5 separate regions of the Homo sapiens genome follow, and regions 1, 3, 4 and 5 are each linked to region 2. Evidence: fine-mapped expression QTL. A gene starts in region 2. Each other region holds a variant in brackets. All regions are shown on one strand. Distances are from middle to middle. Region 1 holds the start of CEBPE (CCAAT enhancer binding protein epsilon). Region 2 holds the start of SLC7A8 (solute carrier family 7 member 8). Region 3 overlaps SLC7A8 (solute carrier family 7 member 8). Region 4 overlaps SLC7A8 (solute carrier family 7 member 8). Region 5 overlaps SLC7A8 (solute carrier family 7 member 8).

Region 1 (5,823 bases), 68 kb after region 2:
CCCTCCCTGAGTCACCCCAAGGGGAGAGAGGGGAAAAAAGGGAAGAGAAGAGAGGCATTGACTACAGAGGAAGGAAAAGGAAGCAGAGCAGAGGGGGGAGAGAGGCCACACAGGAGTGGGTGACAGAGGAGACTGCAGAGGGCAGGTCTAGGGCAGAAGATCGAGAGAGGGCAGGCCCAGGTCAGGAGGAGGTAGAGAGAGGGCAGCCGGAGCACCCCAAGGGGTGCCTCAAGAGCAGGTGGGGGCGGGGAGCCGAGGGGGCGGGCCGGCCATGTCCCACGGGACCTACTACGAGTGTGAGCCCCGGGGTGGCCAGCAGCCACTCGAGTTCTCAGGGGGCCGAGCTGGGCCCGGGGAGCTAGGGGACATGTGTGAGCATGAGGCCTCCATTGACCTCTCCGCCTACATCGAGTCTGGGGAAGAGCAGCTTCTCTCCGATCTCTTTGCCGTGAAGCCAGCGCCTGAGGCCAGAGGCCTCAAGGGCCCCGGAACCCCTGCCTTCCCCCACTACTTGCCGCCTGACCCTCGGCCCTTTGCCTACCCTCCACATACCTTCGGCCCAGACAGGAAGGCGCTGGGGCCTGGCATCTACAGCAGCCCAGGGAGCTACGACCCCAGGGCTGTGGCGGTGAAGGAGGAGCCCCGGGGGCCAGAGGGCAGCCGAGCTGCCAGCCGAGGCAGCTACAATCCCCTGCAGTACCAAGTGGCACACTGTGGGCAGACAGCCATGCACCTGCCCCCAACTCTGGCAGCACCCGGCCAGCCTCTGCGCGTTCTCAAGGTAAGAGCAGGCCAGCCCTCCTCCCTCCTGCCCGGGGCTGGAGAGGCTGGTGTGGACAGGACCCTGTGCCCCGGCTCATGCTGCTGAGCCTGTGCTTGGTGTCGCTCTGTGAAATGGACCCAACCCACAGTCCTCTGTGTTCACACCCCACCATGACCTCCCTTTCCTTCTCTGTGAATTCATTCCCACCCTGAATCCCCACCCAAAGCCCCTGTGGCAAGCTGACCTACTTGATCTCAGGCCCCCACCGCCAGCCTCTCTGCTGCTCACCATGCCCCCTCCTCTTGTTTCTCTGCCGCCTGCTTCTGTGAGAAATGTCTACTGGTCATAGAACGGGAGACTCAAGGCAGATTGAGGGAAAGTGTACTCAGAAAGTGTGAGAGCATTGGCTGGGTGTCGTGGCTCATGCCTGTAATCCCAGCGCTTTGGGAGGCCAAAGCAGGAGGTTCGCTTAAGGCCAGGGGTTGGAGACCAGCCTGGACAACATAGCAAGGCTCCATCTTTACAAAAAAAGAAAGAAAGAAAGTGTGAGAACATGAAAGGGAGTTTTGGTCTCAAGCAGAGGACCCTGTGCATCTGGGTCACCATCTCCCAGAAGCAGAGCGATGATAGTTTTGACCTGAGAGACAGGAGCTGGCTCTGAGTCCTGTATTCCTTTGACGCATCAAGTGTGCCCTGGCTGCCGAGATTCCCGCCCCGCCTCCGCTCTGCCTCCTGGCCAGCCCTCACCTCTCCGTCTCTCCGTGCCTTCCCCTCCAGGCCCCTTTGGCCACTGCCGCACCCCCCTGCAGTCCCCTCCTGAAGGCGCCCTCCCCGGCTGGCCCCTTACACAAGGGCAAGAAGGCAGTGAACAAAGATAGCCTTGAGTACCGGCTGAGGCGGGAGCGCAACAACATCGCCGTGCGCAAGAGCCGAGACAAGGCCAAGAGGCGCATTCTGGAGACGCAGCAGAAGGTGCTGGAGTACATGGCAGAGAACGAGCGCCTCCGCAGCCGCGTGGAGCAGCTCACCCAGGAGCTAGACACCCTCCGCAACCTCTTCCGCCAGATTCCTGAGGCGGCCAACCTCATCAAGGGCGTGGGGGGTTGCAGCTGAGGCTGGCTGGTGGATTGTGGGCACCAGGCTCCCTGGCACGGCCTAACTCTGCGGACCCCCATCCTGCTGGGGGCCTAGAACCCTGAGACATAGACCATGGATAAATGGCAACCGGGGTGGCAAAGAGGGCAGGACCCAGCATAATGATTATATGGCTGAATAAAGTTGCACTGTGACTGGGTGTTGGGACTGTTGGCTGTGTGTGTGTGTGTGTGTGTGTGTGTGTGTGTGTGTGTGTCATGGAGGACCCTGGGGACAGAGGATGCATGTGGCTAGGTCTGCACCTCTTGTTTCCATGACCAAGTGGACATGTGGAAACACAGACATGCTGTCCACAGCCCACCCCCAATATACCACACAGCCAGGCCGTGTATCTGTCACTCTGCTCTTCTCTCCCTGACATCCCCCATCACCCCCTTCTGTGAGCTGAAGGCACATCCCCGCCCCCCACAGGACCTGGAGCACCTTTGTATGCTCTGCTAACAAAGATCTTCAGCTTGTAGGGAGATCCCGGCACCACACAGTCCTTCATGCCCAGGCCTGCTGATCCCAGGCCCACTCTCTCTCACCTTGAGGTATAGGTCTGGGAGCTCCTGCCCCAGGTGACCATGGGAAAATTCCTGATGGCTCTGCCATATTTATGGTCCCTTGATCCAGCCCGCCATCTCTTCTCTCCATTTCCAAAGCCTCAGTCTACCAGATGGACACCCTCCCCACGCTGCTCCCACCCATTCATTTCCATCCTTTGTCCCTCATCCCTGAGGCTCCAGTTCCCTAAAGCTTGAGAATTGAGTGCATGGGACAGGAATCGGTTGGGAAAGACCTGGAGACCGGATTTGTGTATGAGAACACTGGTAGTGAGAAGGAGGATGACAATCTGCCCGTGCCAGGGAAACCCATCATTCGAAACAGCATTTTCTTTTGCATTGGACTACAGCCTAAGAGACAGAATGGTACAATAATTAAGAGCCTCAGTTTGAATCTTACACTGCTACTTACTAGCTGTGAGCCTTGAGCCATTATGTCTTTCTGTGCCTCAGTTTCCTCATCTGCAAAATGGTTGCAATATTTGTCCCCACTCCGTAGTGTTGTTATATTCATAGAAAAAGAAAACTTTGCATGTAATAAGCATATTTATTATGATTCCTCCATTTTGCTGGAACTGAAAGGACCTCAGAGATCTCATCTAAACTCATTTTGCAGGTAAGAAAACAGGCTGCAAAGAGGGGAAGGGACTTACCTGGAGTCACACGATTGTTTAGAGGTAGAACCAAAATTGGCTCTGTAAAATCGCAGATCTCAAGATGTGCTGGGAGAGACCTCAAGAGATCATCTGGTGGGCTCTGCCCTCAGACCAGCAAG[G/A]TAGGGTGAGCCACATTTTACAGATAAAGCAGTTGAGGGCCAGAGGGGTAAGAGGCTTCTCCTGACACTCACTGAGTCCCTTTGCTGCCTCAGTACGTGGTACCTGTCTCTCTACTCCACGCTACACTCTTCTCACAGATCCTCAGTACGAGTGTCACATGAATCACATTCAATAAAGAACAGTGCCCAACAGTGTCAGGGACCCAGGGACAGATTACGGGCTTCTTAAAGTCTCTCCTAAGCCAATGCTGTGAAAGGCTGAGTCAGACATCAAGGAATAATTTTCTGAGAAGGTGAGAGACTGGTGTCTGGATCATCCCAGATCTCTCTCCCTTCTTCAAATCTCCAGCGGTAGAGCCCTCCCACACCTCGGGCATCCGTGTGCGGCATGTCTACCTTGCCCAGGACTCAGTCCTTTTCCTGCCTTTGCCTCTGTGTCTCTCGGGCACCTCTGTGTCCTGGAGGCCCGTGCCCCAGGTCTGGTTTGGAGGGAGAGATCTGAACCTTCAGTGGAGGGACCGACTGGAGCTTCCTGAGTTCAGAAGGAGGGGAGGTACCAGTCTCTGTGGGCACCTGGGAGAATCCTCACACCTTCCTTTCAGCCCAGGGGGATAGGTTGCATAAGGGGGGTTTGTACAGAACATGGTAAATGACTCAACCTCCGGATTTCCTCCTCTCAGCTCAAGACCACTGTCCCTTGACTTACTTTCAAGGTTCTGGGTGATGGGACCTGGGTTGCTTCAGCATGAAGCCCAGGCTTTGTTCCCACAGCTCTGAATTGCTTCTCCTCTCAGGCCCCCGCTCACCCAGTCAGGTCCTCAGGGCCGGTGCCTAGTGGAGCCTTCCTGACTGGCACCCAGTCTGGGGGAGTCACATCCCCGTCTCCCCACTGTGATCCCAGCGTGACGTGCAGCAGCTGAACACATCCCAATCCTCTGCATCAGATCATATTCCAGGGGTGTGAGTCAGAGCCAGAGGGCACACTTCCTGAAAGAGGCTTTCAATCTGACCTCAATTGGTTTTGGCCAACGTAACTTATTCAACAAGTATTTGTTGAGTATCTTTTCTAGGAATGAGACAAGTTCTCAGCAGAAGGAGTAGGAAGAAAAAGTCAATAAACAAGTGTGCTGAATGTCTTCCTTTGCCCCTCCAGAACCCTCTCCACCCTTCATCACCCTACACAGTCCCCAGGTGGATGCCTCCCTACATCAACCAGCCTCTCATGGGGTGGGGGTGAGACTGGCAGGAGGAGAGTGGTGGGAGCCCCCTGCTGACCGGCGCTCTCCACAGTCCCTCCCAAAGGATTCCTGGCCCTCAGGCGCCCCCCGTGCTGGGCTAGCCCAGGGGACTTCACCACTCCAGGAACTTTCCCCAGATACTGTTGGTTCACATCTTCATAAAGCACCTTAATTAACTTCTCCTGCTTACTCCATTTGAATAGCCCATTGGGGAAACCACATAAACCAACAGGTAGGGAGGCTATTTTAGCTGGGGTGGCCGAGAAAGGTATCTCTGAGGAAGTGACATTTTAGTTGACACTTCAAAAATTTTGAGAAGGAGGCAGGTATGTCTTTGAGTGTAAGGGTGAACAGAGGGAAGGGTAAATGCAAAAGCCCTAAGGTGACCGAGAGAAAGGAAGCCAGGAGTAGATGCTGAATGAAAGAAGGAAGGAGAGGATAAGTAAGAAAAAGATGCACCTTCCCTCCAGAATGGGGCTGCAGGGGTTGCAAATGACTATTTTCATTCCCTCTGTCAAGGAGGATGGTGCCTAAGAAGCCGGGGCAGGTGGAGAGCAGGGTTCTCTCTGCCCCTGGATTCAGCTTCCCTGCCCCTTGGTCCTCCTGGCACCTTTACCACAGTAAGGTTGTCCCCACTGGGGAAGGAGATGACAGAAAGGAGCCCAGGGAAGGGCAGTTAGCCAAACCCTGCCTGGGGAAAGGCACCAGGACCGGGGACTCGATAACGTTTGAAAACCAGCAAATCAAGGTCCAAACAGCACACGCATGCAGTCCTATTGCTTCAGCGCCCACAGCTCAGGCCCACTTTTCTTTCTGGAGCAGAACTGGGGAGCAGAATGAGACTCCTGAGCTGAGAGACAGGATCTTAGGCCACAGGGAAGCTGCAGAGGAGAAGACAGACTGTGGGGAGACACTGCAGAGGGAGGAAGCTGCCCAAGGTGAGTCTGCCAAGGTCAGTCAGCGGAGGCAGTGGCTTGTGAAAGCTGCCCCCAACCCCCCTGCTCGGTGCACACCTCCCCACCCCTCTACACAGATTGCCACATGCCTGGGCCCCCAGGGCCCCCATCCCAGTGTTGCAAGATCCCGGTTGGGGTTGTGGGTGGAAAGGGGCCTCTTCACCTCCACCCCCTGCCGTGCTCCAAGCCAGTGAGGGGACTATGGGATGAAGGGGGCTGTTCAGGAGACGCTGAGGCAACAATAGGCAGGGCTGGCTGAGAGCCTGTGCGTCTCCTCTCGGACAGGCCAGTCACTTCCCATCACCCTCACCAGCACCCCCCACCCCCCGCAGACAGACCCCTCCTCCCGACTCAGCATGAGCTGCTCCAAAATGGGAGTGGCCCAAGCTGG
Region 2 (5,823 bases):
CACAGTTAAGACACCAAAGCAAAAACACAGAGTTTCCCTCAGGTGAAAGAAATTGAGGCTTTGACCAGTAGCTATAGCATCCTGAAAAAGTGCTCAGTGTAAACTATCAATCTCCCATTTGCCCTCAAATAGACTGTCTTGTTTTTTACCTCAGGTAAAATATTTCTTTAAGCCTCAGGTTTCTAATTTTTAAAATCTTTAAGATAACTGCCTCGTCTGCCCAAGATACTACATGAGGAGGAAAAAAATTGAGATATTGTTCAGAAAACCATTTGTGGGCTATAAAGCACTATTTAAACGTAGAGAATAGAATAAAAATATAAAGGCAAATGCAGAATAGAGTAATCCCAGCACTTTGGGAGGCCGAGGCGGGTGGATCACAAGGTTAGGAGTTCAAGACGAGCCTAACCAACAGGGTGAAACCCCGTCTCTACTAAAAACACAAAAATTAGCCAGGCATGGTGGCAGGTGCCTGTAATCCCAGCTACTTAGGAGGCTGAGGCAGGAGAATCACTTGAACCTAGGAGCCAGAGGTTGCAGTGAGCCGAGAGCCGAGATCGCACCACTGCAGTCCGGCCAGAGCAGCAGAGCGAGACTCCTTCTCAAAAAAAAAAAAAATGCTCAAAATTTAATAAACATTAGTTTGTAATTTTTTACAGATTTTTGTCAACATATTACACCAAGGCTTTTCTTTCTCTCTTGTGTTCAATGTTAGTCACCTGGAATTTTGACACACTTAAGAGTTTATGTCACAAAAAGATTCCAACCTACAGAGAGGCACTTAATATAAATAATGCTCCCTTTGAAAGTGGGGAGATTCCTTTCCTAGCTTTGTTTGTTTGTTTGTTTTGGTTTGGTTTTTTTAAAGACAGGGTCTCACTTTGCCACCCAGGCTGGAGTGCAGTGGTGCGATCTTGGCTCATTGCAGCCTCAACCTCCATGGCTCACACGATCCTCCCACCTCAGCCTCCTGAGTAGCTGGGATTACAGGCGTGAGCCACCACACCCAGCTAATTTTTGTATTTTTTGTAGAGATGGGGTTTCACCACATTGCCCAGTCTGGTCTTGAACTCCTGAGTTCAAGCACTCCACCTGCTTCGGCCTCCCAAAGTGCTGGAATTACAGGCATGAGCCACCGTGCCCAGCCCCTTTCCTAGATATTACATCGCACCAGTAATCAATGGTAATAAGCCACTTATAAATTCCAAGTGCTAAAGAAATAGAAATACTAATCTTCAGCAACTCTTCCTTTCCAACGTGTGCACCTAGTACCGCTGTATTCCAAGAACGTATTTGATCCCATAACCCCCTTAGCTTCTTAGTTCATAATTTGAGAGGGCTAAAGCTTACCATATCGTTATCAGTTTGCACTGGTTTTAGCAAGAGACCTCAAATTCATCACATTCATGTTTTATCCCACATTAAGTCTGCATCATATAAATTAGAACTACCAAATATTACTGAAAGAACTCACGTTTAAGAAGCAGAAACATTATTTGTTTTATATGGTGATGTTGAAATCGGAGCAGAAGTCTTCAAATCTGAATGTATACAAATGAATCTATCAAATTTTTCCTCAGTGCTTTCTAAGGTTGTCAGGAAAGGCTAGAGGCAAATTCGACATTTTTTCATTTCCCATGACTCATTCCCTCCCATGGAGTTTCGTGCTATATATTCCCTGCCTTGTCTGGTTTTTTTTGTTGTTGTTTGTTGTTTTTTTTTTGCTGAGTCTTTCAATTTGCTGTGTCTTGAACTAGCAAAAGGAGGAGAGGAAGTTCCTCCCAACCTTTGAAACCTCTTAATACTTGCTGAGTGATCAAGGGGGCAGATGACTGCTGATTGGACTTTACCCCATTTGAAAAAGCTTTTGCTATGATAGCTCAACAAACCTCATTTTAAGGAATTAAGTATTTATTTTCCTTAAAACCCAAAATCTTTTGGAACATTTTCCAGAAAGTGAGGCCAAATTTTTGTAGTTAGGGGTCAGTTTGGGGGAACTTAATTTTTTAGGCCCACTTTAAAATTAAATAATTTTGCATAATATATTTAATAAGGCTAAAAATAACTTTATTTTAGACTTATAGTGTTGTCCACTATATTGCTTCATGCTGTTTTTTCGAAATAATTTACAATTATAAATAGACATTGTTGCTCTCACCTTAAGGCAGCAGTTTCTGAGTGAAATTCTTCAAGAAAGTGGAGGCATCATTTCGATATGGTAATAAGCTAGTTATTCTAACATCAACAAGTATGTTTCATGATCAGCGATATACTGATAATTCCCCATGTGTGCTTTTCAAATAGTTTATAAATGCAAAAATATTAGAAGTTGCAGGATCAGGGTTTGAGTCATTTTTTTTCATGTTTCAGCCAGTCCTAAATAAGAGCTGTGAACAACAAGGCTACCTGGTGATTTTGTTTTTTATCTTTTTGTATGTGCATGTGGTTTTTCTGGCTTTTTGTTTTGTTTTGTTTTTGAGACAGGGTCTTGCTCTACCTCCCAGGCTGGAGTGCAGTGGCGTCATCATAGCTCACTGCAGCCTTGACCTCCTGAGCTCAAGCAATCCTCCAGCCTCAGCCTCCTGAGTAGCTAAGACTACAGGCCTGCACCACTGCACCCGGCTAATTTTAAAATTTTTAGTAGACGGGGTCTCGCTCTGTTGCACAGGCTGGTCTCAGACTCCTGGGCTCACGTGATCCTCCCCTGTCAGCCTCCCAAAGCGCTGGGATTACAGGCGTGAGCCACCGCGCCTGGCGATTTTGTTTCCTCTGTACTCTTCGTAGCTCACAATTACGCTAAAAGAACCTTTTTCCCATTGTTAATTCCTTCCATTTCCCTCCCCCACCCGTCGATTCCCCCTATTTTTAGGAAACTCGAAGATGATGTCCTTTCAACGTTCTCTCCTGTATTCTCAAATACAGGATCCAGTCCTAAATATTTTTTAATACATTGGCTAGTTTATTTCTGATGGCATTAAAAGTATCGGCACAACTGTTCCCTGATTTATAAAGCTCACAGATGCTGTATGACCTGTAACATTATACTAGCTAATGAGCTCTCCCGGAACAGTTGACGTGGAAGGAGTTTACTTCCACTTGGTTGCAAGGAGAAAGATGGAGAAAGCGAGAGACGATTGCAAAAAGAAATAACTTAGTCCATTTTCTCAGTGCTGTTTGGGGGCTTTGTGCTAATACTTAAATTGCAGAGGAGGGAGGAGACGGGACTGAGGATGGAGGGGAGCAGAGGAGGCAGGGGCGGAGCCTCGGCGGGCGAATAAAACCCCTCGCTAAAGAGAAGCACGTTAGTGTGTGGAGAAGCCACTCTCCCGAAACCAGAGGGATGGGGCCGGCTGTGCAGTAGAACGGGGATCGAAAAGAGGAAAACAAGGGCACGAAGACCAGCGAGAAAGAAGAGGACACCTGGGAAAGGCGGAAGCAGAAGACGGGGAAGGGAAAAGAAACCCAAAGCAGGTGGAAACCAGATCTAGAGCAACACCGTCAGGTTCACAGTTTGTTTTTCTAGAAGAGAAGAAAGTACCTGAGGATTGCTCTTTTTTCCTACCGTTAATGAAAACTACTTTTGTCTTCATCATAAAAGAAAAAACTAAGGGGAGGTAAAGGCAGTCTCCTGTTTTATTAGGGGGAGAGGTGAAGGGAAATCCAGGCTCACTTTCTGAATAAGCCACTGCCTGGTGCACAGAGCAGAACCATCCTGGTTTCTGAAGACACATCCCTTTCAGCAGAATTCCAGCCGGAGTCGCTGGCACAGTTCTATTTTTATATTTAAATGTATGTCTCCCCTGGCCTTTTTTTTTTTTTTTTTTTTTAGCAACACTTTTCTTGTTTGTAAACGCGAGTGACCAGAAAGTGTGAATGCGGAGTAGGAATATTTTTCGTGTTCTCTTTTATCTGCTTGCCTTTTTTAGAGAGTAGCAGTGGTTCCTATTTCGGAAAAGGACGTTCTAATTCAAAGCTCTCTCCCAATATATTTACACGAATACGCATTTAGAAAGGGAGGCAGCTTTTGAGGTTGCAATCCTACTGAGAAGGATGGAAGAAGGAGCCAGGCACCGAAACAACACCGAAAAGAAACACCCAGGTGGGGGCGAGTCGGACGCCAGCCCCGAGGCTGGTTCCGGAGGGGGCGGAGTAGCCCTGAAGAAAGAGATCGGATTGGTCAGTGCCTGTGGTATCATCGTAGGTGAGTTCCATTCCTTCCCGCGGACCCCTCCTCTCCCCTCTGGTGGTCCTCCTGTGAGATCTTAACCCTTCGAAAGCATTATTGTTCTTCCTATTCCTTAGAAAAGGATTGTCAGTCACCTGAGCTGTAACTCACCTCCACTGGTCAAGTTTGAGAGGCATAGGAAATACATCATACATCTCTTCCTCCAAACCAGGCAAAGATTCTGCCCAGTGTTCATAGAATGGAGCAAATCGTGGTCAGAAACCCGGCTGATGATTAGCATTGCCTGGGAACTCCTTAAAAATACAGGTCCTGGTCTCGACACTTGGAGGTTCTAGTTCAATAGGTTTAAGGAGGGACTGAGGGACCTGAACAAGTTTGTATGCAGCTATTATTCCCAGGCTGGGGATGGGCTTTTAAGGTATATTTGGTAGCTATTTTGCAGTTTTATGTTAAATGAAACTATGGGATAGGTATTAAAAATAGCAAGAGCAATGCCCTGCCTTTTTATTTTAGCGTTTTCCACCTTATGCAGCACTTTTACTGTGTGAAGTAGCTGTGACAGGGCTGTTATTCCCATTTCACAGATGGGGAAGTTATGGAAGAAAAGAGGGGACAGATTGTGCCTCTCGGTAAGTGGAGAGTTTGCAGTTTCTCCAGTTGCCTGGTGGGGTCCACCTGTTTCTTAACAGCCACGGAGGACCCGGTGAAGCTCTCAGAGGGAATCAGGAGTAACTAGAATGTGTAGAATATGGAGTTGAGGAGGAACTGATGGGTAAAATATGTGTCCTAGCTGGGAGGTGCTGAAGGTGGGGAACCTGGGTGGCCCCAAGAGTGCCAGTGCAGGCCACTCAAACCCCCTGAATGTACTTTGCAGGGCAGGAGTCCCAAATACAGCTTCGTCTCTAGACAGCACATCCTCTTTCCAGAGAAGCCTTGGAGATGGATGGCAGGCAATAGCTCACTATTCCTGCCCTCACTTCAGAGTGAGAGATTGTTCTGCTATCTTTGGTAGGGGGCTTTACTTTCTTCCCAGAAAAAGGAGTGCAGGACGGTCAGGCATAGATATGCTTCTTTGTCATCTCTCCAGAGTTCCTTTATGAGAGCTCGTTGTGTCCTGGTGCCCCTGAACCAGTTTCTCTGGCTGACGCCATGTTCTATGCAATAGCTCAGAGATATTTTGGCATCTGAGCAATAGTGACACTGGAGAGCACTCTTGAAATCAAATAAAATCAGTGCAGTATTCAGATAATCCTCTTCACCTCTACACCCAGAACTTCAGTGACCAAGCTCTCTTCAGTCTCTAAAATGAAATCCCATCCCCCCCCCACCCCCACCAACTCCTCCTACACCCTGGAATCCTATTTTATGTGATTCCCTGACTCTGGGAAGTTTTCCAGGCCATCTACAGTTATAAGAAAGATAATGTTATAAGAAAAATTGTAGTCATGATCTGAATCTCTCTTTACTTTTTCTCATGACATTTTTTTTGCCTCTCCTTTACTTTATCTCAATTGTTCAAAAGAAATGAGAACAGCCAAGTATTCAGTATGTATAGCACATGCCAGTTTAAGGTCTATAAATAGCCCGTTCACCAATTTGACTGACAGAATTAAGCATTTTCCCCCTCTAGGAAGGTT
Region 3 (5,823 bases), 53 kb after region 2:
TTATAGTTTTCAGTCCTGTTTTTTCATTTGATGTTATATTTTGAGCATATTCTCATGTAATCAAATTTTTTCAAAAACATTATGACTACATAATGTTCCCTTTTTTTTTTCTTTGAGACAGAGTTTCACTCTGTCATCCAGGTTGGAGTGCAAGGGCATGATCTCTGCTCACTGCAACCTCCACCTTCCGGGTTCAGGCAATTCTGCCTCAACCTTCCAAGTAGCTGGGATTATAGGCACGTGCCACCACATCTGGCTAATTTTTGTATTTTTAGTAGAGACGAGGTTTCCCCATGTTGGCCAGGCTGGTCTCAAACTCCTGACCTCAGGTGATTCACCCACCTCAGCCTCCCAAAGAGCTGGGATTACAGGCATGAGCCACTGTGCCTAGCCCATAACATTTCATCTTATGCCAAATTCATTTTATCGACCTCTTACTTTTAGGCACTTACGATATTTCCAATTTTTTCTTTCTCTTTTTTTTTTTTTTTTTTTTTGAGACAGGTTCTTGCTCTGTTGCCTAGGGTGGAGTGCAATGGCACAATCACAGCTCACTGCAGCCTCAGCCTCCCAGGCTCATGTGATCCTGTCACCTCAGCCTCCCGAGTAATTAGAACAACAGGCACATGCCACCACACCTGGCTAATTTTATTTTTATTTTTTGTAGAGACAAGGGTCCACTATTTTGCCCAGACTGGCCTCAAACTTCCGGGCTCAAATGATTCTCCCGCCTCAGCCTGCCAAAGTGCTGGGATTGCAGGTGTTACCCACCGTGCCCAGACAGGATATAATTTTTTTAAACTCAATCCCACAAGACAGGATATAAATTTTTAAGTACAATTTACATACAATAAAATATGCAGGCTGGGCGTGGTGGCTCATGCCTGTCATCCCAACGCTTTGGGAGCCCGAGGTGGGAGGATCATTAGAGCCCAGTTCGAGACCAGCCTGGGCAACATGGCAAGACCCTGCCTCAATTTTTTTTTTAAAAAGCAGATCATAGGCTGGGCATAGTGGCTCATGCCTGTAATCCCAGTACTTTGGGAGGCCGAGGCGGGCAGATCACCTGAGGTCGGGAGTTCGAGACCAGCCTGACCAACATGGAGAAACCCCGTCTCCACCAAAAATACAAAAATTAGCTGGGTGTGGTGGCGCATGCCTGTAATCCCAGCTACTCGGGAGGCTGAGGCAGAAGAATCGCTTGAACCTGGGAGGCGGAGGTTGCGGTGAACCAAGATCGTGCTATTGCACTCCAGCCTGGGCAACAAGAGTGAAACTCCGTCTCAAAAAAAAAAAAAAAGCAGATCATAAATGTTCATTTTGATGAGTTTTGTGGGGGTTTTTTTGTTTGTGTTTGTTCATTTTTGTTTTTTATTGTTGTTTTTTAGAGGCAGAGTCTCACTATGTTGCCTAGGCTGGCTTTGAACTTCTGGGCTCAAGCAATCTTCCTGCTTCAGCCTCCCAAGTAGCTAGAAATATAGGTGTGTGCCACTGTGCCTGGCTTCCATTTGATGAATTTTGACAGTTGTCAAAATTCAACCACTACCCAAAACAAGATAGAGAACATTTCCACCACCAATTCCCTACTCCCACAAAGACAACTAACTACTCTCTGACTAGGACAAGAGTGTTTTTAGGCCAGGCGCGGTGGCTCACGCCTGTAGTCCCAGCACTTTGGGAGGCCGAGGCAAGTGGATCACGAGGTCAGCAGTTCAAGACCAGCCTGGCCAAGATGGTGAAACCCCGTCTCTACTGAAAATACAAAAATTAGCTGGGCATGGTGGCACACACCTGTAATCCCACCTTCTCGGGAGGCTGAGGCAGAGAATTGCTTAAACCTGGGAGGCGGAGGTTGCAGTGAGCCGAGATTGCAGCACTGCACTCCAGCCTGGGCGACAGAGTCAGACTCCATCTCAAAAAAAAAAAAAAAAAAAAAAATAGAGTGTTTTTAAAGCTTTCCATATGCAGTTCAGTCCCAGTGTATTAGGGAATCTGCATCCTTTGAGGATGTGAGGAATGCTTTTAAAGAGATGAAGATTTTAGGCAACAGACAGAGGCTGCTCCTGCAGCCTTCCAGGCATTGGGAACACCCCACTGAGTGACAGTACAATTATCAGTAACCCTGAGCCACCCATACCACATTCAGGGTCTAACATACCCAGGGTTCATCCACTTTTCCACTGGCTGCCTCTGGTTTGCTTGCACCTGCATTTGTGAACACAGGTTCTGTGACTGGTGGGGTGGAAAGTATGCATGTGAAGGCGGGTGCCTGGTTGGAGTGGGGATGCCCCTGTGTGGGCAGAAGGTAGGCAAGGATGAAGGAGCTGGGGCTTGGTGGTCCCTGGGTTATCCCAGGCTGACCTGCTTTTCTCCCTGACAGGCTGTTCTTCGCTGGAGCCCGAGAGGGCCACCTTCCCAGTGTGTTGGCCATGATCCACGTGAAGCGCTGCACCCCAATCCCAGCCCTGCTCTTCACAGTAAGGG[C/A]CCTTCCTGCTGTAACTCTCCACACACCTCCCTCTCTTTGTGCCTAGTCTAAGCTGGGAGTTCATGCTTTTCACACACACCCCTGTTACCCTTGCAGTCTGCTGCTAGGTCTCACTGGATCTTAGAGGATCTGGCAAATGATACCCATCATCTTTGTTAATATCAAGAGATATAGCAAGGAAAGATCCTGAGTCTTGAAATACCTAAGGCTCTCAGGCTGACTTATTTCCGTTCTCCCATCCTTTTGGGTCAGACTGAACTGACTGTCTCAGGATTCTACAGCCTCAAAAAAAATATATCTCCCTTGGCTCTCCTCGCACCTGTTACCACAGGGTTGCAGCACTGGCCTCTGCTCCTGGCTGGTTGGTCCCTGCAAACACCCACTTCCCCCATCAAGCTTCAGGGCAGCCTGCCAGTCTCTTGGGAAACATCATTGAAATGAAGTTAGTGTTAACAGTACACCAAATACGAAAAATAATAGAGGAAGACTGATAAACTGGAAACTGTGCAAAGGAAACTTGGGACAGGAAAGAGATGGGAGTAAAATATCCCCAGAGTAGAATCATTTTGAGAGAGCTATAGGAAGGAACAAAGACTTGTCCCCATTGAGTCTTTTGAGTTATTTTTATTTTCCTTCTGGATCCTGAATAAAACACTAAAAATGACTTTGGTCCACTGGTGAAGCAGTTAGCAATCAGAATAACAGAGCTCTTGGGAGCCAAGAGCATTTTACAGCATTGCTGTACAATTTCAGAATGTTCAGATGCAGGATGAAGGTCACCTTGACTGGTTGGTTGTCGAAGGTGGCTGGAGAAGACAGTACTCCCAGTGGGCCACACACATTTTTTTGTTTTGTTTTGTTTTGTTTTTTCCAGTTAGAGCTATTGGTGCAGTAGTGTGACTAAAAGGCAGATGTAGCAAGAACCATTAAAATCTTCTCGATTATTTTAACCATCGGATCTCACAAGAGAACAGAACCTTTTGTTGACCTTCACAAGTTATCAGAGGGGAGGAGCATGGTTCCAAGAGAGCCACAGAGATGATTTTGAAGTTGGAAAGTAGACTCTGTCAAGAAAACCTCATAGGGATGTTATGAGGGTTAAGTGAGTTAATCTTTGTCAAATGCTAAACATAGAGACCTGGCACACAGTAAGTGCTATGTAACCAGTTTTGAAATTAATAAAGAAAAGGAAGGAAGAAAAATAGATGACTCAGCCAGGAGAAAAGGATGAGGGCAGGAATACAGCCTTAATCTGTTGTTAACAATCTTCCCTAAGGGATTTTAAAAAAATGAATTTAGCTTGAGCTATAACCAACAGAGGCATACAAATGAGACCGGGGCTGACACAGAGCCAGGTAATACCAGTGTGGCCAGTCTAGCTGCTTATGTCCAGTATCCATTCTAATTGGCTAGTGCCCGTGCCATACGAGTGGTTAAATATTTTGATCATCACCCCTGTAATAAGAAAGGATTTCCTAGCAATAAAGATGTTGTAACATATTGGGTTACTAGGGGAGGTTCTAAAGTCTCCATTTCGAGACATCCATTATACGATGGCATCATCTGCCTGGAGGCTGGGGGACAGCCCCTAATCTGTAATACCAGTCTCTGAATATCTTTCGGATCACTGATGAGCTCCTCCCACTTTCCCAGTGCATCTCCACCCTGCTGATGCTGGTCACCAGCGACATGTACACACTCATCAACTATGTGGGCTTCATCAACTACCTCTTCTATGGGGTCACGGTTGCTGGACAGATAGTCCTTCGCTGGAAGAAGCCTGATATCCCCCGCCCCATCAAGGTGAGAGAAACTCCCTTTGGGGTCCCCTCCCCTTCCTCTATGGTTCTAGCTGCAGTTCAGATTTTTAAATCACCTCTGTTCTTAGCTGCTGACCACACGTCATCATCTCTGATGGTAGCAGACCCTTTGGAAAGCAAGGGCCATTTGTGAATGGGACCACTATTTCCATTCTCCACTGGGGATGAGATCGGAGCAGACTGCAGCTGGGGAATAAGTCAGATCAAATGTGACTTTCATCATGACATTCCTTTGTTTCCTACCAGTCTAAGCCTTAAACTCCAGCTGACTTTTCAAGGTTCTCTTATCTCCCCAACACTTCCTCCTTGTCCCTCCAGATAGCTGGGTTCACTATGTGCTATGTCTCCATCCCAGAATGACTTCCTCCTCCCATCTGCCCATCTACATTTTAACCATTTTCCAAATGCGCCTCAAGTACCTCCTCTTTCTTGAAGTCTTCCAGTCTACTGCAACCTCCCATGATCCTCCCTTTATAAACTCCCACAGTCCTACACATATAGGGTGCTCAGTGAACCTAATATTGCTACAAGATATAACTCTGTGATAGGAATTAAAGGGATTGCTCAGAACAGGACATGCTAGAGCATTATGAGTTCTCCTACGAATTAGAAGAATAGAGTGTACTCCAGAGCTATTTGAACAATCCTATTCTAGAAACAGTGACTAGATGCTTCTAGAAGATCCTTCCAGCTGAAAAATCAAAGGCTCTCCAAATCTCTCAGTTCCTCACTGGCATTTCCACCGCCATTTTCTACTCTCACACTTAGAAAATCTGCTAGAGGGAAGAGGAGGTAGAATAACCCCATGTCCCCACCACACACATCCCTTCTGAGCGAGGAAGACAAGGAAGAGAAAGGCAGCCGAATCAGGACTGCCCCTGGAGCCCTGAAGAGGATACTCTCAGGAACTCCCCACATGTGGCCCATAAGGAGCTGACATTTGCCATATTGTGCCCACATAAGGGCCCTGCACAGAAGTGGGCAAGGACCAGGGAGCCTGAGTGACTCGAATCGTCTCCTGCCTGCACCTTGTGCATTGCCACACCTCCCCTCCACCCTAGGACCTCAGCAGACACACCCATGTGCCAGCAAGCTTCTCCATCCCTGTGGGCTTCTCTGGCTGCCACGGGCACATGGCATGCATGATGAGGCCTTGTCTAACCACACCCAAGAGCGAGGACATGGGCAAGGAGGATCGTTTCCTCCCTAACTCCTCCCCATCCTCTTCCTGTCTGACCGACCATGTTCATCAACATTTGTTTATATAGCCCCTGCCCTACCAGGGGTGAGTGTGGGACCACAGAGCCGAGGGAAGCCCAGCCTTTGCCCTTGAGGATGTGTCTCTGTGGGTGAAGAAGAGAGAGAATGCCCCAGTCCCTAGTCCTGGGGGCCACGTGGCCTACACAGTTCATACGCCTCATGCCTCTGCTCCACAGATCAACCTGCTGTTCCCCATCATCTACTTGCTGTTCTGGGCCTTCCTGCTGGTCTTCAGCCTGTGGTCAGAGCCGGTGGTGT
Region 4 (5,823 bases), 21 kb after region 2:
TGGGTGGGGGCAGAGGCTGGGCTCTTCAGCATCCTTGAAAATAAAAAAGAGATGCATGACTTGCCCGGGCTCTCCCCTGATGGCTCTGCGTCCCTGCCATGCCTTTCGGCGGATGTCCCTTTCCTCCTTCAGGTTCCTGAGGCTGTGGATTGCTGTGCTGGTGATCTACCCCACCAACCAGGCTGTCATCGCCCTCACCTTCTCCAACTACGTGCTGCAGCCGCTCTTCCCCACCTGCTTCCCCCCAGAGTCTGGCCTTCGGCTCCTGGCTGCCATCTGCTTATGTAAGTGTCATCTGGGTCTTGGTAGCAAGACAGCCTCTTTTATTATATTTATTATTATTATTTTTAGAAACAGAGTCTTCACTCTGTCACTCAGGCTGGAGCGCAGCCGCATGATCATAGCTCACTGCAGCCTTGAACTCCTGGGCTCAAGTGATCCTCCTGCCTCGGCCTCCCAAAGTGTTGTGGTTACAGGTGTGAGCCACTGCACCCAGTCTGAGGGACAGCCTCTTTTATCCTCCCTGGAGGTCTACATGTCTCTGACTCTCCTAACTTCTCTCCATTTTTTTTTTTTTGAGGCAGGGTCTCACTCTGTCACCCAGGCTGGAGTGCAGTGGCGTGATCTCCACTCACTGCAACCTCCATCTCCCAGATTCAAGTGATTCTCCCACCTCAGACTCCCGAGTTGCTGGGATTGCAGGCGTGAGCCACCATGCCCGGCTAATTTTTGTATTTTTTGTAGAGATGGGGTTTCACCCTGTTGGCCAGGCTGGTTTTGAACTCCTGACCTCAAGTGATCCGCCCGCCTTGGCCTCCCAAAGTGCTGGGATTACAGGCCTGACCCACCTCACCCTGCCTCCTTTTCTTTTCCCCATTACTTTTCTTTCAATTTCCTACAAGTGTGTTTTTTATGAATGGATTCTGCATACAATTGTCTGGTGTTAAAAAAAAAAAAAGAAAGAAACTTAAGTAGCTCCTTGGAGGCACTATGATTTTCACTGGCAGGGTTCTTGACATTACGCAAAGCACTTTCACCTATATTATCTGATTTGGGCCTAATGACAAGTCCATGAGGTAAGCTGGGCCAGTGTTAACATTTTCCCAGAACAGATAAGGAAACAGAGAGCCAGGCAAATGACTTGCCCAGGGAGGCAGGCCACGTGGAGTGCAAGGGCTCCTGATTTCTTGTCTGTCCAGTGCACTGCACTGTGCTGGCTACTCCCAGCTGCTCCTAGGAAGATTACTCTGGCTTCTTGGCAGTAGGTCCACATCTACTTCTACCTCAACTTGTCAAGTCACACTCTTTTAACTCTCTTGGAGAAGGGTTTGTCCATGATCCCTGCCCTTGATGAGTTTTCTAACTAGGAGAAAAGCCATATAGACAGATACTGTGGTTAGGATTCAATTGCAGTAAAAATTCAGAGAAGGGAGCTAGGCATGGTGGTGTACACCTGTAGTTCCAGCTACCTGGGAGGCTGAGGTAGGAGGGTCGATTGACCCTGGGAGTTCTGGGCCACAGTGAGCTATGATTACACCTATGAATAGCCACTGCACTCCAGCCTGGGCAACATAGTGAGATCCTGTCTCTAAAAAAAAAAAAGAAATTAAAAACAACAATAACAATAAAATTCAGAGAAGGGGAAAAGATCTCTGTGGGCTGGAATAGGTTAGAGAGGCTTCCTAGAGAAGTTCTGCAGAGCCGTATTTCTAGGAAGTCTCAAAGCTTTATCTCTGATATTAGTCATCTCAATGGATTGGGGTATTTTACATCTTTAATCAAAAACTAATTTCTAAAGTAAATACTTAGATATGTTTCAGGGGCTCCACCTCTAGGGTTCACTGGGTCCCTGCCTTCCCATAGCTTCTAACACACATACACTTAGCTGAGGGCAGTGATCATCCTGGCCATATGCTTTCCCAGGTCCTGACACTTTTCCTTCTGTCCTGTTACGGGATGGGGGAGGAAGAGATCACTCACCCACCTCAGTAGCCTCTTACAGGGCAGGCAGCTGGGACCCAAGAGGCGGTCTCCTTGGCAAGTGAGCCCTCTTTGGCAGTGCTGGTCAACCCTGGGACAGACCTCCACCACCCAGGCCATTTGCAATATGGGGCCAAGACATTTGTTTGGGGGTGTATTCCTTGTGTTTGATCAGGCCTGCTCACAGATCTGGAGGCAGAGGAATGCAGGCTCCAAAACCAGGCTGCCTGCGCCTGCATCTCCAGTCCACCATTTCTAACTGCAGTGGTGAGTGCTGGGCAAAATCACTCGTCCACCCTACTGTGAGATGGGGAGTGTAATCCTAGCTGCCTCAAGAGGTCGTGGTCACAAGGACTGCAAGAGAGAAGGAAGGGGACACCCTCAGCACAGTGTTAGACACCCAGCACCCCAGTCATATCAGTCACTGGGGGTGGGCAAGATGCTGGGGCCACTTTATCCTTGCATCCTAGCTGGATCCAGAGTTGAGATGGGGAGCGGGGAAGAGCGAGGGCGTGGGAATGCAGGAAGAGTGCTGTTTCTGCCATCAGATCAGCTAATGGGAGGGTGGGAGGCAAGGCCACAGAAGTGCTAGC[T/C]ACTGCTGTTTTGGTGTTTCTTTGCACACAGACAGCTTCCTTTTTCCTGCTGATGCTGCTAAAGTGTCTCAGACAAGAGGCCACCCTTACCCTTCTACTAGAAATCAAGAACCCCCGAGGCTGTTCAGTTTGCACCCTAGGAGAGGAGCCAGGCCACAGGTTGAAGAAGTTCCCAGGCAGCCAGACCCCATGGCTTTCTTTGCATTCCCCAAATCTGCCAAGGGTTTGACCTCTTGCACAAAGACCCTCCAAAGTAGTGTAGCCTTTTTGGCGTCCCCTCGGACCAGAAAGGTCCAAACTCTCCTAGGAGATAAGAACGCCACCTGCCTGTAGCCCTGCTCCAGAATGACATGTTGCACAGTCCTCTCCACAGCCTTCCCCTCACCTAGACACTGCAAGGACCAAGCCAAGGAGAAATTTAGAAACTGGCTGATGACAAAAATGACAAGACCCCCCTCCTCTATTCCTGTAGTCAAAGATTCAATAAAGCTTATCTAAGTTTGGCCTCTGCCTTCTCAGCAGAACTGCAAGGAAATTATCTCCAACTTAACAGTAGCCAATCTTGTCCTCTAAAGACAGGAATTTTCAATGTCCTTGAAATATGGGTTCAAATATTTGTCTACCTTCATAAGCAGAAAAATCTTAAATCCTTCTTATTCCCAAGCGTAGTCTTCCTTATTTCCTTTAGGGGAAATGGAAACCAGCTCCACACCTGTCCCGCTGCAGTGTCCCTTTCCTCCTAGCTGTGAAGGCCATGTGGAGCTGCCATCCCTCTGCCCGGCAGGGTGCACACGTACATGCATTAGCTATAACAAACTTCCTCTCTCCCTTTCCTTATACCTGACACTCCCAGCTGCTTTGAGTCTGTGTACAGAGGTTCTGTTTTCCGGTTTGTTGAATACTTTTTTTTTTTAATCCACTTCTATAGGCCCCTCAAATCCTCTCTTCTTTTTTTGAATTTTATGGCAGGCCATACCAGATAAGCATCCAATCCTCTCATACGGTATTCAGTAAAACAAGAACCAAGCTGTCAGGAAGGCTTGGTAGATGCTTTTTTTTTTTTTTTTTTTAGATGGAGTCTCACTCTGTCACCCAGGCTGGAGTGTAGTGGCGCCATCTTGGCTCACTGCAACCTCCGCCTCCCGGGTTCAAGCGATTCTCCTGCCTCAGCCTTCCAGGTTGCTGGGATTACAGGCATAAGCCACCATGCCCAGCTAATTTTGTATTTTTAGTAGAGATGGGGTTTCCCCAAGTTGGTCAGACTGGTCTCAAACTCCTGACCTCAAGTGATCCACCCGCCTCAGCCTCCCAAAGTGAGGCCACTGCGCCCGACTGGTAGACGCTATCTTTCATTAAATGCTGGTACTTTTTATTCCAGCACCCCTCCCACCCACCCACCTACCCCCACCATCATCCAGCCCTCCTCATCCTCTTAGCAGGGGCCAGGCAAGCCAGCTACATAAAATAAGCCCAGCCTGTGTCTCTTTTGAGAGACGCAGTAGAGAGTTCCGGTGTGGCGTAAACATATGCACATGGGGAACTCTGCTTCCTGCTGTCCTGTGGCGACATGCTGATGACTGTGAAGCGAGAGGTTTTGAGGAAAGGCCACCCTCTGTGGAGAGGTCATTGGTGTATAATGGAGGGCACTGGAGGACAGGGCACAGGGCCCAGCAGGGAGAGCCTGTGTGGTAAAGCCCGTGGCGAGGGTTTGCTGGGGGAGGGAGGAGATGAGGCCAAGTCTGGTTCCATGGTGGGGCTGTTTTGGAGGAGAACTGATGAGAAATGAAGTTGGGAGGAGCCAGGTGGTGGGGGTGGAGAGGTGGAAAGAACCTGCTGAAACTGGCTTGCCTGCCGGATCCTGAGCGGGTCGGGGAGAGGAGAGGGAGAGGGAAGGAACTGCAGACTTGGATCACACTTATGCAACTGCAGCTGCCACTTCGAGTTATTCTATTATTTAGGTCAAAGCTGATTACTCACTGCTGAGTCAGCAGAATATCCCTAGCCACCCAGCAGTAAAAAAAGAAAAGAAAAAAAAGAGAGAGAGAGAGAGAAAGTATTTTACATTTTAATTAAATAAAAAGCCTTTCTCTCTTCTCCAGAACAAGTATATTAGTGGGAGTGGAGGGAGTTAGGAGGGGACTGGGAAGTGTTAGAACTTGGTTTTGATACCTTTTGTGATCTGCTTGTGTGTTTTTCTCCTTTTGTATTATTTCATGAGTAAATGACTATATTCCCCATATAAAAGATCCAAGTAAGATATAGAGCCAGCAGCGATAGCCGCCCTTATCATCAGCCGCTGGCCAGTAGCTGCAGTCCTAGTGGATAGTTCTAAATAAAGTGCATCTATTACTGTACAACTCTGGCTGCATGGACCTATGTACTGACAGGTTATTCCTACAGCGTGCCCTTTTTTTTTTTTTTTTTTAAGACGGAGTCTCCCTCCGTCACCCAGGCTGGAGTGCAGTGGCGCGATCTCGGCTCACTGCAAGCTCTGCCTCCCGGGTTCACGCCATTCTCCTGCCTCAGCCTCCCGAGTAGCTGGGACTATAGGCGCCCGCCACCACGTCCGGCTAATTTTTTGTGTTTTTAGTACAGACAGCGTTTCACCTTGTTAGCCAGAATGGTCTCGATCTCCTGACCTCGTGATCCACCCGCCTTGGCCTCCCAAAGTGCTGGGATTACAGCTGTGAGCCACCCCCACCCGGCCTACAGCTTGCCGTTTTATCCTGTAGCCACATCTTTTGGCTGTTACCTGGGTCTCTAGTTGTAAACAAAGCATCCACAATGATCCAGAGGAAGCACTGGGTCCAGGGGACACCCTTTCCCAGGCTTCCATCTGTGCATCTGTGCAACTCTGCATTTTCCTTTGGGATCCGTTTGCTCCCCATTCTCTTGGAGACTGGATCACCTTTCATTCAGTCCCCTCCTGGCCTCCTTCCTCTCATTTGGGGTTGGAGTCATGTCCAGCACCTGAAGTGGAATCAATTCTTTTTATTCAAGTTCCCCACTTCTCCCTGAATGTCTTGACCTAAAGAAGTTCCTTCTCCTTCCTCACCCTCAGGAGAAAGAAATATCCTGTATGCATCTCTCAAGGAAAAAATGCTTCTAATCTTGTTTTCTATCTTTCTACTGAGATTCCTAAGAGGCTAGCTTTTTCCAGGGCTTCAGATAGCTCTTCTTCCTTGAGCTATTTGGAAAGGAAAGGACTTCATGTGTTGCTTCAAACTCCTGAGTTGCTTTGCAATTCCTC
Region 5 (5,823 bases), 29 kb after region 2:
GGAAATGTTATATAAATGCAACACTTTATTCACTCAACAAACACTTATCAGTGCCCATGATGGGCTAGTTACTGTTCTTGGCACGGGGGAGACAACAATAAACCGAAAGACTCTCATTCTCATGTGAAGCAGCAGCAGCAGATTTAGCCTTCTTTCTTAACACATATTATACTACACCCACCTGTGTGTCCTCTATTGATGCCGCGGGTAATACACAATCAGTCATACGTTATTAAATATTTGAGTGTCTGTTCTGCTCCAGGCACTGTGGCAGGCATGGGGATACTTAGTTTTTGTACCAAGGAACCCACAGTCCAGTGGATGTTCCTGACAAGTATACAGGGAATTTCAGTTCAAACTGGAGTTCCAGTTCCCCAGGAGGCCAGCATCCAGGCAGCTCCTGCAAGAAAAGTGAGGATGGGACTGGGGTTGAAGAAGCTCTTGGAGAAAGTGACATGTAAATTGAGACTGAAAGACCAGTTGGACATAGTCAGGCAATATTCAGCACGGAGGGAGGGTGGAGTAGAATGGGGTGGGGAGAATGTTCTAGCAGAAGGAATTAACATGTGTCAAGGTCTGAGGACAGGAAAAATCACAGTTGTTTGTGGGAACTACAGGTTGTTCAGTATAGCCACACCATAGACTAGGAGGCAAGAAATATATAATAGAAGCAAGGACCCCATCATGAAAAGCCTCATGGGCCATAAAGAGATTGGGCTTTCCCTTAGGAGGAATGAGGTTTGAAGGGTTTCAGACAGAAGACCGACATGATCATATCTGTATTTTAGGAGAGTCATGCTGCAAAGCTAAAGGATGGATTGGTGAGGGGAATAAGATCAGAGGCAAGAAAAGATGATTACAATTCAGTTGTAAGGATTCAGATTGCAGATGACTATCATGTGCATCTTGGGGCAGTGGGAGTAGAGAAAAGTAGATGCATTTGGCATTTAGGAGGTAGAATTGGTAGGCCTTGGTGATTAAGGTTGAAGGAGTCAAGGACTGCATGGTCTTGTTGGGGATACAGGTGAAGTAAATCAAGGACAACACTGGGTCGTATTGTCTGTACGTATTGTTGTATCATCTGAATTGGTGTGGTTCAGACTGGTCAAGTTGACCCCTCTGTCCTTGTCACCCTTTCTACTCACTCTTCAACACTTAAGACTTGCTGGGACTTGAGAAAGCATCCCCTGTGCTTTTGGACTCTTATGTCTACAATGGCAGAGTAAGTAAGTTACCTGAGAAGTCAGCCTTCTTCTTCGTTTCAATGTGCTTCAACTGCTGGCCCAGATCACCTCCTCTTTCCTGATTCCCATAGTGTCTCTTCTGCTCTTCAGCTTCTACTCTCAGACAGAAGTTCTGCTGTTCAGAGAGTGTGTGTGCCCACACCCTGGAAATGGAGGAATGAGGGGCTTGTTCTGGGAATATGTCTACTTCTGATTGGAAGAACAGTGAATGAGATTGAGGTTTCCTGAAACAGGAAACTGTTTTGGAGTTCAGCTTCCACCAGGTGTGGTAGAGATTTGCCTACTTTCTTGTACCAGCCTAGAAACTTAAATTCTCTGGCCTTTTGTTGCTGACTGTCAAGGATCACTTTGTTTTTCTCAGAGGAGCCAGGGCCCATGGTTTAAATAAAGTCACCCATTAATTGTGTCTGGTAAACTTTTAAGGGTTAATGTGACACACCAAATTTATATCACATACCTAAGAACATAAAATCAGAAGGCTTATGGGAGTGAGGCCCAGTGGTACTTGGAGCTTTGGGGGAAAGAAAAAAGGGCATCTCTGTTATAAGAGTTCAGCAAGTTGTGCTCACTTTAGCGGCACATATACTAAAATTGGAGCAGTACAGAGAAGATTAGCATGGCCCCATGTACAGATGACATGCAAATTCACAAAGTGTTCCTTATTAAAAAGAGAAAAATATCCGGGCGCAGTGGCTCATTCCTGTAATCCCAGCACTTTGGGAGGCCGAGGAGGGCGGATCACCTGAGGTCGGGAGTTCAAGACCAGCCTGGCCAATGTGGAGAAACCCTGTCTCTACTAAAAATACAAAATTAGCCGGGCGTGGTGACATATGCCTGTAATCCCAGCTACTCGGGAGGCTGAGGCAGGAGAATCGCTTGAACCCGGGAGGCAGAGGTTGCGGTGAGCCGAGATCGTGCCATTGCACTCCAGCCTGGGCAACAAGAGCGAAACTCCATCTCAAAAAAAAAAAAGAAAAGAAAAGAAAAAAGAGTTCAGCAAGTTTAAGTACAAGCTACCCTTGGAATTGGGTTATAACTGAACCGTTTTGGGGGAATTTTGCAGCCTGGGTCCAGGTTTATAGAATTTAGTGAACACCAACAGAGCCTACAAGCCTTCTGGTCCAAGAACCAACTAAACCTCACAGGATCCACACCCTGTCTTCCAAGACTGAAATATGATGGAGGGTCAGGCTAGCCCTCCTGGGCTCAGTGCAGACTCAACAGAACCCATTCTCATCCACCTTGCTCCATGTCTCGGGGGACATCAGCCCTGAGAATTGGTGTGTGAGATAGCAATTTTTCAGGCCCAGGCTGAAAAAGTAATGAGTAGGATTAAAATAGGGTTCCCCAGGGTGGCATGGCAGGCCACCCTGGATTTCTTGGTGTCCAGTTTTTCGCTTCTCCCCGATCCAGGCCAGCTGAGGAGCCATGTTTAGCTCATGCTGAAGAGAGAACTACTCAGCTCTTGGAAAATGCTGAGCTGGGTATTCCTGCCTCTTGGCTGAGCTAAATACTGGGTGGTGATTCAGCAGAAACCCCAGCTCCAGCAGCTGGCGCAGGAGCTAACAGGATAAGAAGGAAGGGGAAGAGAGAGCCAGGAA[G/A]GGAGGAGGGGAGGGGATGGGGCAGTATGGGCAGGAGCTTAGCTGGAAGTGTTTGGTAAAAGCTGTGTGCCTCCAGGAGCACTCACAGCCCTCACAGCTTCTCTGCACCCTCCTCCTCTGCTGGTGTGTCCTTGGAAGAGAGAGGCCCTTCCGGAAGGCTCAGAGCACCTCCTCTCCTTTGGAGGGGGTTCCGAGATTTCTAAAACGTTGTAAGTGCTTCGAGATGAAAAGGGCTGGAGAAGGGGAAATGTTACTATCGTGCGATAGGCAAGATCTGTTTCAAAACCACACTCCCCACTGTGCACTTTATAGAAGCTGGGATCAAAGCGCAGTTTATGAGGAAGGGCTGCTTTGATTTTTTTTTTTTTTTTTTTTTGTCTGTTGTGTGGCTTTTTGTGGGTTTTTTTTTTTTAACGTTTTTCTCTTTCACCAGTCAAGTTATATGTATAACTTTATCAGACAAGTTATGTTACATGTACAATAATCCAGGTGCGGAAGGACTTTATAATGTGGGCCCCTCACCCGCTCTAAAAAATGTCTTGAGGTGGGGGTGGGCGGGGAATAGAGAAGGATTCTAGGAGGGTTCTGTGAAGCTGGATCCGTGTCTGCCCACTCCCCCACACCTCCAGGCCTCTCTGGGTCTTTGACGAGGAAAGACTGTTCCGTGTGGCCTGCGTGGGCAGAACTGGAACCTTATCAGAGCCTTGGGTTGTGTGCGTTAGAGGTCAAACAGGCCTCCGTGTTTTCTTTGCCTATCAGCGCCTTTTGGCAGCCGGCACTGCTTACCTCCTAGATCTGGAAACGCCTGCGGTTGGACAGGCCAAGCCGAAGCGGCTTTTCCACAATTAGAAACACGTGCTCAGTTCCTTCCACAAGCGGGGGAGGCGGCCAAGGAACTCGGTGCAGCCAATCACAGAGCCGAGCGTAGCCACACCCACGCCCCCACAGGCCCGGCTTCCCTGCCCAGCGGCTCCAACCTCCAGCCTGGGCACCCAGACCCAGAGGGCTGCTGGGAGGGACATGCCTCACCCCTTTTGCTCCAGCTGGAGGGGAGGGAGTCTGTGGGAGCTGGCCAGAGCGTGGCAGAAGGCAGAGAAGTGAACGCCCCAGCAAAAGGTGAGGCTGAGAAGCCAACCCTTCTGGCAGGCCATGACCCAGGTGAAATTTATGGCGTTTCAGAGGGCTGGGGAGCTCCATCCAGAAAGGTGCCTGTTTTGCAGGTTTGGAGAGGAACAGGGCGTTCTGATTTCTACAAAGTGGCGTCACTGCTTCCTTTTTCAGCAACCGTCTGCTTAGTACATTCCATCTTGCTGTTTTCAGTCCTGGCCTCTCTCTGTTCTGCTCCTCTCAAGCCCTTTTTCTCTCCCACTCATCTGCATTGTCCTCCCCTTGCTCTCTCCCGCCCTGTGGTTTCTTGTGCTCTTTCCCTCTCTTCTTCACCATCTGTCTTTATGGACTTTGGCAAGTCTGGACATTTTTCCCCCTTTCTACTGCCTGTTTTCACTTATCTGAACAGACAAGGAGGAGTGGCCTGGTTCTGGAAATGTTAAAGGAAAACCAAGCCTTTCCAAGCCAGTCCAGTCCACTCCTGAGAAAGGTGCAAGCCAGCGAGACCGAGAAATCCAAATGGAGTTCCGGGAGTTTGGAGGGAACATGTGACTGTGACATTGATTAAGGGGGCTGGTGGGAGGGGACCCAAGGTGGAGATCCCTGTGGGAAATGACTTTCTAAAGCCCTGGGAGCAATGGATGCACCTTTCTTGGTTTCTGAGGCATAACTGTGAAAGTCTTCCCCTTTTGCCATATTGGCATCTTCCTTCCTGCTGCACAGAAAGCAGTCCAGGCTGGGGCTAACCAGTGTCTTGGTGACAGACCCAGAGTCCCAAGTGGCACTGGCAGTAGTGACCATGGGTACCACTGACCCAAGCAGGAGGAGAGATGATGTGGGAGCGGCCAAGGGAAAGCAGAGTGATCTGTGTATAATGAAGGAAGGCGGGGCAGAGGCAGAACAAGCAACTGGGAATTGGGCTGTCCCAGTCTGGTCTTTGCTGCGAATTAGCTGGGGTCTAAATTCACTCACATATAAAATGAGGTTCTGGGGCCGCCATGGTGGCTCACAACTGTAATCCTAGCACTTTGGGAAGCCGAGTCAGGCAGATCGCTCAAGCCCAGGACTGGGAAGCTGCAGTGAGCTATGATCATGCCACTGCACTTCAGCCTGGGCGACAGAATGAGACTCCCATCTGTAAAAGAAAAATAAAATGAGGTTCTGGGTCTCTAAGGTCATTCCTGCCTTCTGATCACCCATGAGGCTGGACACAAGCCTTGGGTGGTAGGGCGCAGGCTTCAAATATTTACCTCTAGGGCCAAGAGTTGACTACAAGGAGAGTCCCAACTGGTTCATTCTTCTTAGCACTGTCCTTATAACAACCAATCCAGCCCCGTATCCAGGTGGCCCTATCCCAACCTTTACCCTGTCAGACCAGAATAGTGTGGCTCATCGAGTGGCAGCTGGCTTAGTAGAAGAAATGAGATTGGTTCAGGGATCCATGTGGGAATGTTCATTGGCTCCCTGAGGGAGGCACAAAATGACCCCCTGCTGGCCCAGCTCAATGAGAAGCCAGAGTCCTGTATCCAAAGCAAGGGAGCACCTGAAAACATCACCGGGTGTGGCGGCTCATGCCTGTAATCGCAGCACTTTGGGAGGCCAAGGCAGGTGGCTCACTTGAGCCCAGGAGTTCTAGAGACCAGCCTGGGCAACCTGGCATAACCCGTCTCTACAAAAAATACAAAAATTAGCTGGGCCTGGTGGCACACACCTCAGCTACTCAGGAGGCTGAGGTGGGAGGATCACCTGAGTCTGGGGAGGTTGAGACTGCAGTGAGCCATCATCATGCCACTGCACTCCAGCCTGGATGACAGAGTAAGACCCTGTCTCAAAAAAAAGAAAACATTGGTGGCTCATGCCTGTAATCCCAG

The links. PIP is the estimated chance that this variant, and not a neighbour inherited with it, causes the effect.
Region 1: its variant is the best candidate, but not a certain one, in a credible set for the expression of SLC7A8 in whole blood (INTERVAL, PIP 0.88).
Region 3: its variant is the best candidate, but not a certain one, in a credible set for the expression of SLC7A8 in lung (TOPMed, PIP 0.62).
Region 4: its variant is the best candidate, but not a certain one, in a credible set for the expression of SLC7A8 in T cells (TOPMed, PIP 0.76).
Region 5: its variant is the best candidate, but not a certain one, in a credible set for the expression of SLC7A8 in monocytes after interferon gamma (Fairfax 2014, PIP 0.88).

What each region holds. Positions count from the first base shown.
Region 1 is chr14:23,113,540-23,119,362 of GRCh38, reverse strand. It overlaps CEBPE (CCAAT enhancer binding protein epsilon), which reads left to right and starts at 108. Exons shown (of 2, transcript NM_001805.4): 1 at 108-781; 2 at 1,541-2,057. The coding sequence starts at 272. The coding sequence ends at 1,876. RefSeq lists enhancers at 3,398-4,597, 4,763-5,481. The variant G/A (reference allele first, on the strand shown) is at 3,239.
Region 2 is chr14:23,181,142-23,186,964 of GRCh38, reverse strand. It overlaps SLC7A8 (solute carrier family 7 member 8), which reads left to right and starts at 3,305. Exons shown (of 11, transcript NM_012244.4): 1 at 3,305-4,201. The coding sequence starts at 4,051. It also overlaps a transcript of RNF212B not described here.
Region 3 is chr14:23,128,115-23,133,937 of GRCh38, reverse strand. It overlaps SLC7A8 (solute carrier family 7 member 8), which reads left to right. Exons shown (of 11, transcript NM_012244.4): 8 at 2,381-2,477; 9 at 4,139-4,288; 10 at 5,742-5,823. Among named protein-coding and RNA genes, the nearest start is that of CEBPE, 12 kb to the right of the region's middle. The variant C/A (reference allele first, on the strand shown) is at 2,485.
Region 4 is chr14:23,159,746-23,165,568 of GRCh38, reverse strand. It overlaps SLC7A8 (solute carrier family 7 member 8), which reads left to right. Exons shown (of 11, transcript NM_012244.4): 3 at 133-284. Among named protein-coding and RNA genes, the nearest start is that of SLC7A8, 21 kb to the left of the region's middle. The variant T/C (reference allele first, on the strand shown) is at 2,574.
Region 5 is chr14:23,152,397-23,158,219 of GRCh38, reverse strand. All of the region lies in intron 3 of SLC7A8 (solute carrier family 7 member 8), which reads left to right. It also overlaps the pseudogene RNU6-1138P. Among named protein-coding and RNA genes, the nearest start is that of SLC7A8, 28 kb to the left of the region's middle. The variant G/A (reference allele first, on the strand shown) is at 2,846.